Linked DNA regions of Homo sapiens. The protein of the gene in region 1 purifies or fractionates together with the protein of each later gene. This does not show direct contact. Each region holds a gene or a part of one and is shown on either strand. Other genes may lie near its edges.

Region 1 (4,119 bases):
TCTAACTTATTTTTTCTTGAATTGCTTGTGCTTTTGGTGTCATATCTAAGAAGATGTTACCAAATCCAAAGCAATGTTCTCCTATCATATTTTTGTAACAGTAGAATCTAACATGAATGAATAAGGAAATTCAGGAAATGATCATTTGAAGATGTTTGTATCACACCTGAATTAAGTGAGATTTAGTTATTGAAGAAGGCATTTCTTTGTGAACCTGTTCCCACAGGGAGAAATTAATTCACACATTCATTTAGCCAATATTTATTGAGCACCTTGTATATTCCAGGTATTGTTCTAGGCTCAGGGGACACAGCTGGGAACAAGACCAATTTCCTGCCCTCATAGAGCATACCTTGAGTTGGATAGGAAACACACACAAGCAATGAAGATATGAAAACCTTCAGATAGCAATAAGTGATCTGTTGAAACCAAAGTGGGGTTGGGCATTCCATTTGGATGGGATGTACAGGAAGGACTCACTCTCAAAGTGTCTCAAAGTGTCACAAAGAGTGGATAATTTGATGAACAGAAGCAAGCAACTATGATAAGGTCTGGGACAGAGTTTTGGAGGCAGAAGAAATGCCAAGTGAGATGAGAACACACTGGTGTGTATAAGAAAGGGCAAACAGGTCTTGTGTGTGTTGGGGTAGGAGGGGTGCACACGGGTGAGAAAAGAAGAGTTGCAGATAATAGGGAAAGCATATGAATGTTAAATAACTTTCTGGCTGCTCTGTGAAGAATGCACTCAAAGGGGCAGAGCAGACAGCATCTTTATCTTGTCATAAGGCTGTCACCTTATTCCGAGGCTTCCTTTGTAATTGCTAAACCCTTAAAGGTCACTGCCTACTTGACTATTTGAAAGTGAACTTCCCTCAGGTTTTGGAGCAGCTGTTACTTTTGGTTGAAAGCAAGGAACATCAGTCCGCTGCAACGTACCTTGGCGCCCCAGAGGGGGGTTCTTCTTGGGCAAGGGAGGCAGGCCTCCTTCGATCAGTGCAGGCGATGCTCTGGTGTTGCCCAAGTCTTTGCCTCCTTTAGTGCTTGCCCTTTCAACTGAGTTGCCTTTCCTGCTTTCCTGGCAGTCCCTTATTTTGCCTCTCTCCTCGCGCTTCCCTGGTCCTCCTTCACCCTCGTTTTCAATCCTCAATCGTGCATTTTCTGATGCTAGCAGGATTTGAACTGAGTGTTTCCACCAGGGCGACACTAGCAGTTCGCCCTTCAAGATCCAGATCCAAAATCCACCCTCTGGTCTTCGGCCAAGGAAAGGGGGCGGGTGGGGAGCGCGAACCTTATCTCCCGGGCTCCGCCTCCAGGGGGCTGAGAGCGAGTTTCTGAGCCTCTGAGCTCTGCACTGGCCGCTGCAGGGAGAACGGACTCCGGGCGGAGGGCAGCCAATCCGTTTCAGCGCAGGTCTTGCTCGGGTTGGGCTTGCCACTGCCTGGAACATACCTGTCCCCCTGGCGCAACACTCAGCTGGCTGCGACGGCAACCCCGAGCCTGGACACTGCGCCAGGTAAGGAGACACCTCCTACTCCCCTCTCGCTGCCAGAATGACATCTCGGGGGGCCTCAGGGCTGGCTCTCCAGGGGCTGCAATTTGGCATTTTGGGTTTCCTGGGGGTGCAGTCTTCTCCCTGCGCCAAAGCAGTTGGTGAACTGTTCGGTGAATTCCGCGCCCAGCTGGAGGCTGAGATGTCAGGATTTGTCTTGCAAAGTTACTTCATGTTAATGAATCTTGGGAGGTTCTCTGGGTGCAGATTCCTGCCTTGGAGTGTTTGGCTTCTGAGTACGATAACGTGCGTTGATTTACTCCCCTGAGCTCAACCCCACCCTCAGCTTTTAGCTTCTTGGAAGGGTCTCCAGCGTCCACACGTGGCGCTGAGCGCGCAGAGCTGTGGGTCTGGGGCTGTGTTGAGTGGGCCAGAGGTTCTTTACGGCTGCTGCATTATGGACTCACTCCGGGACCTTTAAAAAAATCGATGCTTGAGCAGCACCCCAGACCAATTACTCAGAATCTCTGGGGGTGGGACTTTGAGCATTAACATATTTAAAACTTTTGTCAGGTGATTCCAAAGTGCAGTCGAATATAGAAAGCAGCGAACTACAGCAGTGATTCGCTGTGTGGCATCTGGCCCGCAGCAGCAAGCACCTGGTAACTTTGAGAAATACAAACAAAATCTAGGGCTCTAGCTCCGCCCTAGACCCACTGAACCTAAAACCCTGAGGCTGGTGCCCAGAAACCTGTGTTTTAATGAGCCCTCCAGGTAATGCTAGTGCTTGCTCAAGTTTGAAAACTGTTGGGTTGGACCTTACTTAATCAGAGAAGACACCTGCAAATTTCCCTTCACCAAGGGAGGAGGCAACAGACCACTTTTCAGAAGAACCTTAGTTATTTATTAGTAGAGTTTTGCCCATATTGAAAAAAAAAAAGCATACTGGGGACTTTGAAAGATCTTATAAAGGGGAGACTTAAGCATCATCGAATAATTTTTAAGCAGTAGAATTTGTATACTTGCTTTAGGAGAGAATAGGAATTTTTCCTTTTCTAAAAGTTGAAATGAAGCCAAGGAAGAAATATACATGAGTCTTCCAGCTGTAATAACAGGAATCTTTGACCCCTGATGAAATGTTCCTGGATCATCACTGTCATCAGTGCAGGTTACAGCATTCATATGCGTATTTTGTCTTTTCCTAAAGTAGTTGAGGGTTTAAGGGATTCATGCCAATTCTCTTTAGTGAAAGGGAATTCAGTGTTGCAGGCCTCTGGATTATTGAAGTGGACCATTTTTTTTTTCTTTTTATAGATATCTGAGATTTCAAAATTTTGGCTAAAATAGTTCCAGCTGTTTCTAAGCCATTAGTTCAAAAATAGAATGACTTTGCAAATGGGCTTAAATGGATTAGAAATCTGACACTGGATAAGAAAATCTAGAATAGGCATGACTCCAATCCCAGCACATGCGTGCTGCAATGAACACAGGGCTAACTGTACCAAGACTTCCTGTACAGAGAACATTTATTTTCCAAACTGCTTTTTTTCTGTGCCAATTTGTGACTGAGGTATATAAACTTGTTAAGGGTTAGGTACTAAGCTTGTATTTAGAGAATCTGGGGGAAATTTAGATAGTGGTTAGGAACAGGAACTTTGGTCTGAGGCAGACCTGGGTTCAAGACCTGCTCTTCTGCTTCTCTGTGCTCTTGGATAGTTGCATAGCTTCTCCGAGCCTCATTTTCCTTATCTGTGAAATGTGGGGCGTACTAGTACACTTACCTCATAATTCACATTGTTGTCAGAGTTAAATAATGCTTCTAAAGTGCCTAGCATAGTAAGTTAAATATTTGTTAGCTCAAAATACAAACTCATGTATACACACCATCAAACAACATAATCCTCAACCACCTTAAAAGAAGATCTATGTTGATACATGATTAGATTTTTATTTAAATACCAACTGCACTCTTAGAAGGTGACTATATGGACATCCTCAAATTATCCTTATAATTTGATTACATACTTTATATGGAACTTTCTGGAAAAAGTTTTAGATTAGCTTCAAATCAATAGCCTAGGTTTTTTTAAGTCACTGTGGTGAAGGATTTCACCTTCTGGTAGCCTTTATAATGTATTAACATTCATATTTAAATAGCCGTAAAATCTGGTTCTTCAGAATACTTTTCTTTGTAAAAGAAAATCCAAATGAGAGAGCATCTAAAAGTGAGATGGTGTAGTCTCCAGGAAAGCTAGTTTAGAAGTACTATCTGGTGTTTCTTAGGTTCTTAACAGAGTGAATAAAGGAAACCCTATCCAGTTACATCATGATTTGTTCAAGAAAATATAAGAGGAAGCAAAATGAGGACACAGAGCAAGGACAAGCCTAAACTGGCAAAAAGAGTAGGTGAGGTAATGAGTCCTTTTCTTCCTTAGCTGCAATAATTTCAAAATGCTTCAAGTCACACACACATGCATACAATCAATTCCTTTCACATTATTTGATTGGAACTGATCTCTATTATCCTCTTAGGACCAAGTAGATCTAGTGAAAATATTTATGGTATTAATGCCAAAAAAGATGCCAAATGATTCTGTACTTTGAAATTAATTTCCATTCTCTTTTATTTT
Region 2 (3,500 bases), on another chromosome or scaffold:
TCACACAAGACCCATGCCCAAGTCACACAAAACACGCAAACACACAGATGACTGATGAAAATCAACATTTTACCAAGCTAAATGCAAATAAGGCCCTTAAAGAAACTTTACTACTAGGCAATATACTATATCAAATATTAAATAAACAAAAATAAATAAAATAAGTAAAAATAACACCTTTGGGGGGCTGAGCATTTGGAATGTTTCCGGAGTAGGGGAGTCTTTTTCCCTTTGTAAAGTCTAAAATGAAGAGAAGCATTGGGTAAGTTGACCTGTACACCCGCTCTCTCAGGTATTCTTTGGTAAATAAAAATAATAGCAGCTGTTGATCAAAAGCTAACATTCTGAAATGTCCTTCATAGACAACATGCAGAACAAGCAAAGCTTATAGCACACACAAAGAAACATCTCCAGCTCTTTCAGCCCTTCTTTTCTTTTCTTTTTGGGAGGTGTGGTGGGGTCAAACATAAGTCTAAGCTCATTCCTTAGCAGAACTTTCATTAGACACATAAGACAACGGAAAAAATGAGTAAGAGAGGCCATTCCATGATGCGCTGTTGAGTCAAATTAGCCAAACATGAGCACAAAATACTATCACAAGTACTGAGGATATTCAATAATAATGCACACAGGTTTGTAGAGAAAACAAACATATTCAAACAATACATGCTTTGTTAAACTAAGAAAAAAATACTTGCCAACTTTTCTGACTTTTCATCAAATCACAATTGCTTATATAAATTTGGAAATCGGAAATAAAATAGCCCCATCATTTCTAAAACCAAAAATCATATCAATATATTCTAAGCCATGTTTATGCATTTTGAAAAATTATTTTCTAGTCATTTTAAGTTTTATAATAAAAGTACATTTGTAGTGCAGCAAGGTATCATTAGTATTTTATTTAGAGTAAATACACTATGTATCTCAACACTTCTACTAGTTTGGTGGTAATAATCCTGCTTTCTAAGAATGTGAAGTTAATAATAATTTTAAAATTTTACCTAGTTAGAGAAAATGTGGACATTAATTTTAGAACAAAAATATTCTTAAATCTGGAAATATTGTTTCATCGAAGCTTATCTAATTAATTTTAATTAGGTCAAGTTTTCACTATAGAATTTCAAATTAAAGATGTATTCTTAAAAGAGCAAAGCTGATTTGTAACAAATACATCTTTATTACTGAAATCCAACTCGGTTGCCTATGAATTAGCCCGAGCACAAAAACTAACATTTTTCATACCATTTCTATAAGTAAATGTTAAATTATCTCCAAAATTACTCCCAAATTTTTTAACACAGAACCAAAAAAATTGGCTAGTACTTACAAATTAGCAAGACAAAGGGCATCAAAACACAGTGACACACCAACTGGTAAAGCAAGCCATCTTATAAGAACATTCAAGCAAGCCATCACTGCATATCTTACCATTTCTCTAGCATTTCGGCAAAGAGCCATATCAGGATCCAGTTTATCACGAACAAAATAGTTCCTTTCATTCATCTCTGATCGGAGTGTCTTTCCTTTAATTAAGTACACATTAGCCATATATGGGACATTCCATACTCCTCTGAAAGTAAAGAGAAGACATTCTTATATACCACAAATACAAACAATTTTAAGTTTCATTTTTACCTTTTTAAAATAAATGCTTTGTGTTTAGATTTTGTATACATAAATTATTGAATCAACATACAAATATATTCAATGATATATATATAAGATTACATTGTATACACTATATTTAATGAGATTTAGGAGATAAACCACTGCCCCTTTGGATACATTTCAATTTTGGGTTGGTATCTGTTTGGCATTTGTATTATAGCTATCATATCTCAATCAGTTGTTACAATTAGACTATTATAATCTATTGTATAGACGGTGTTTCTATTTAAAATTAAAGAATTTGATAGCATGAATCATAACATACAACCAGTGGTGCACTAGACCCAGCTCATACTGGCTCCCCAAAGTTAACTTTTTCTGCCAAGTCCATGTTCAGTAATTTCACATTGGAAACTTGAAATCAGCCATGGTAGAAGTATTTACACCAAACAAATGGGCAAGCACTTTAAATCAGGGAATCCTCCACCTCCAAAAGCCAGTTGTTACACATTTACCAAAATACCACTGAATATAGCCTAAAATTCTCCAAAATTATATTCTCTTACCATTCATTAAGCCATCTTAAATATTTTATAGAAAAAGGAAAACATGAAGAAATACAGCTGGGAGCACATGAACGTTGCATCCTTTCCCACATCTATATTCTCACTCTGAACATGACTGATTTCATAAAAACTGCAAAACAAGTTTTGCCCCTAAGACTGTGCGCCTTTCTTTTAGAGAACATCAAGGCAAGATCTTGACCAAGAAATGCAGTTAGATATTAACGGAAATATGATATTATGTCTTACTAGACTAGCCTCAAAGAAAAATGCCTTAAGGAGTACAGCAGTCCCCGCCTTATGTGAGGGTGATACATTCCATGACCCCAGTGGATGCTTGAAAGCAGATAGTAACAAACGCTACACATACACTACGTTTTTTCCTACACATATATACTTATAATAAAGTTTAATTTATACATAAAGTACAGTAAGACTAACAACAATAATAGAACAACTATAACAATATGCTGTAATAAAAGTTACATGAATGTTTACACTTTCTCTATCTCAACATATCTTCGTATTTTCAATCCACAGTAGACTTGAAACCATGGAAAGCAAAACCATAGATAAAGGGGAATTACTGTATACAACGTGTCAGCTAAATTCAGAAATTAATCTCTGGGGAATTATTCAGTGTTTCAACTTATACACACACACATACACACACACACACAGTTGCTCCTTCGTGTAGCTTTTGGACATGAAGTGTATTCCAGATCAAAAGCTTCTGCCATATTTTTTTCCTTATACTTTAGACAAGAATGACAGGAGGTTGGACAGAAAATCACCAATGCCTAAAGCAACTTGAAACAAATTTTCCATTCTACTTTCACAAACCCTCATTTGTGATGTGCCCAAAGATACAATCAGGTATATTGTCTATACAACTCACCCAGAGTCAATACAACTGCACAGAAACAACAGAATACGATCTTAATAGTCTTTTCTCCTCCACTGTGCATTTTAATTGCAGCTAACAAAAACCTTTATTGTATTTACATCATTCAGATTGAAGCTTTCCACACCAATTACTATTTCCACAAGCAACACATCTTTTTACCACTCAACTGTTTGAACAGAAACGTGTGCCTTTTTTTTTCTAAATGTAAGGGCACATCCTTTTAGTCCTGAGAGTATACTGCCCCTTTTTAATCAGGCTGACATGTTTGAGAACTAAGGCAAAGCATGTAATGTCTTAGTCACTCTGGTCCATCATATGTATGAAAAAAAGAATGACATTCTTCTCCAATATTACCTTAGCAAAACTATTTCAATTGTGATTATTTTTAGTAATCAACCATTGTCTCTGAAATAAATATA

Evidence for each region. Proteins that work in one complex are often made in the same cells at the same time.
Region 2: the proteins of COL21A1 (region 1) and PLOD2 purify together in Homo sapiens (affinity purification with mass spectrometry; one large-scale study listed by BioGRID and IntAct). This does not show direct contact.

The regions. Positions count from the first base shown.
Region 1 is NC_000006.12:56,244,781-56,248,899, reverse strand, and holds the start of COL21A1 (collagen alpha-1(XXI) chain isoform a precursor), read left to right. Parts: upstream 1-1,319; 5' UTR 1,320-1,513; intron 1,514-4,119.
Region 2 is NC_000003.12:146,077,685-146,081,184, forward strand, and holds part of PLOD2 (procollagen-lysine,2-oxoglutarate 5-dioxygenase 2 isoform 1 precursor), read right to left. Parts: intron 1,574-3,500; coding exon 1,432-1,573; intron 241-1,431; coding exon 178-240; intron 1-177. UniProt on the Homo sapiens protein: Forms hydroxylysine residues in -Xaa-Lys-Gly- sequences in collagens. These hydroxylysines serve as sites of attachment for carbohydrate units and are essential for the stability of the intermolecular collagen cross-links.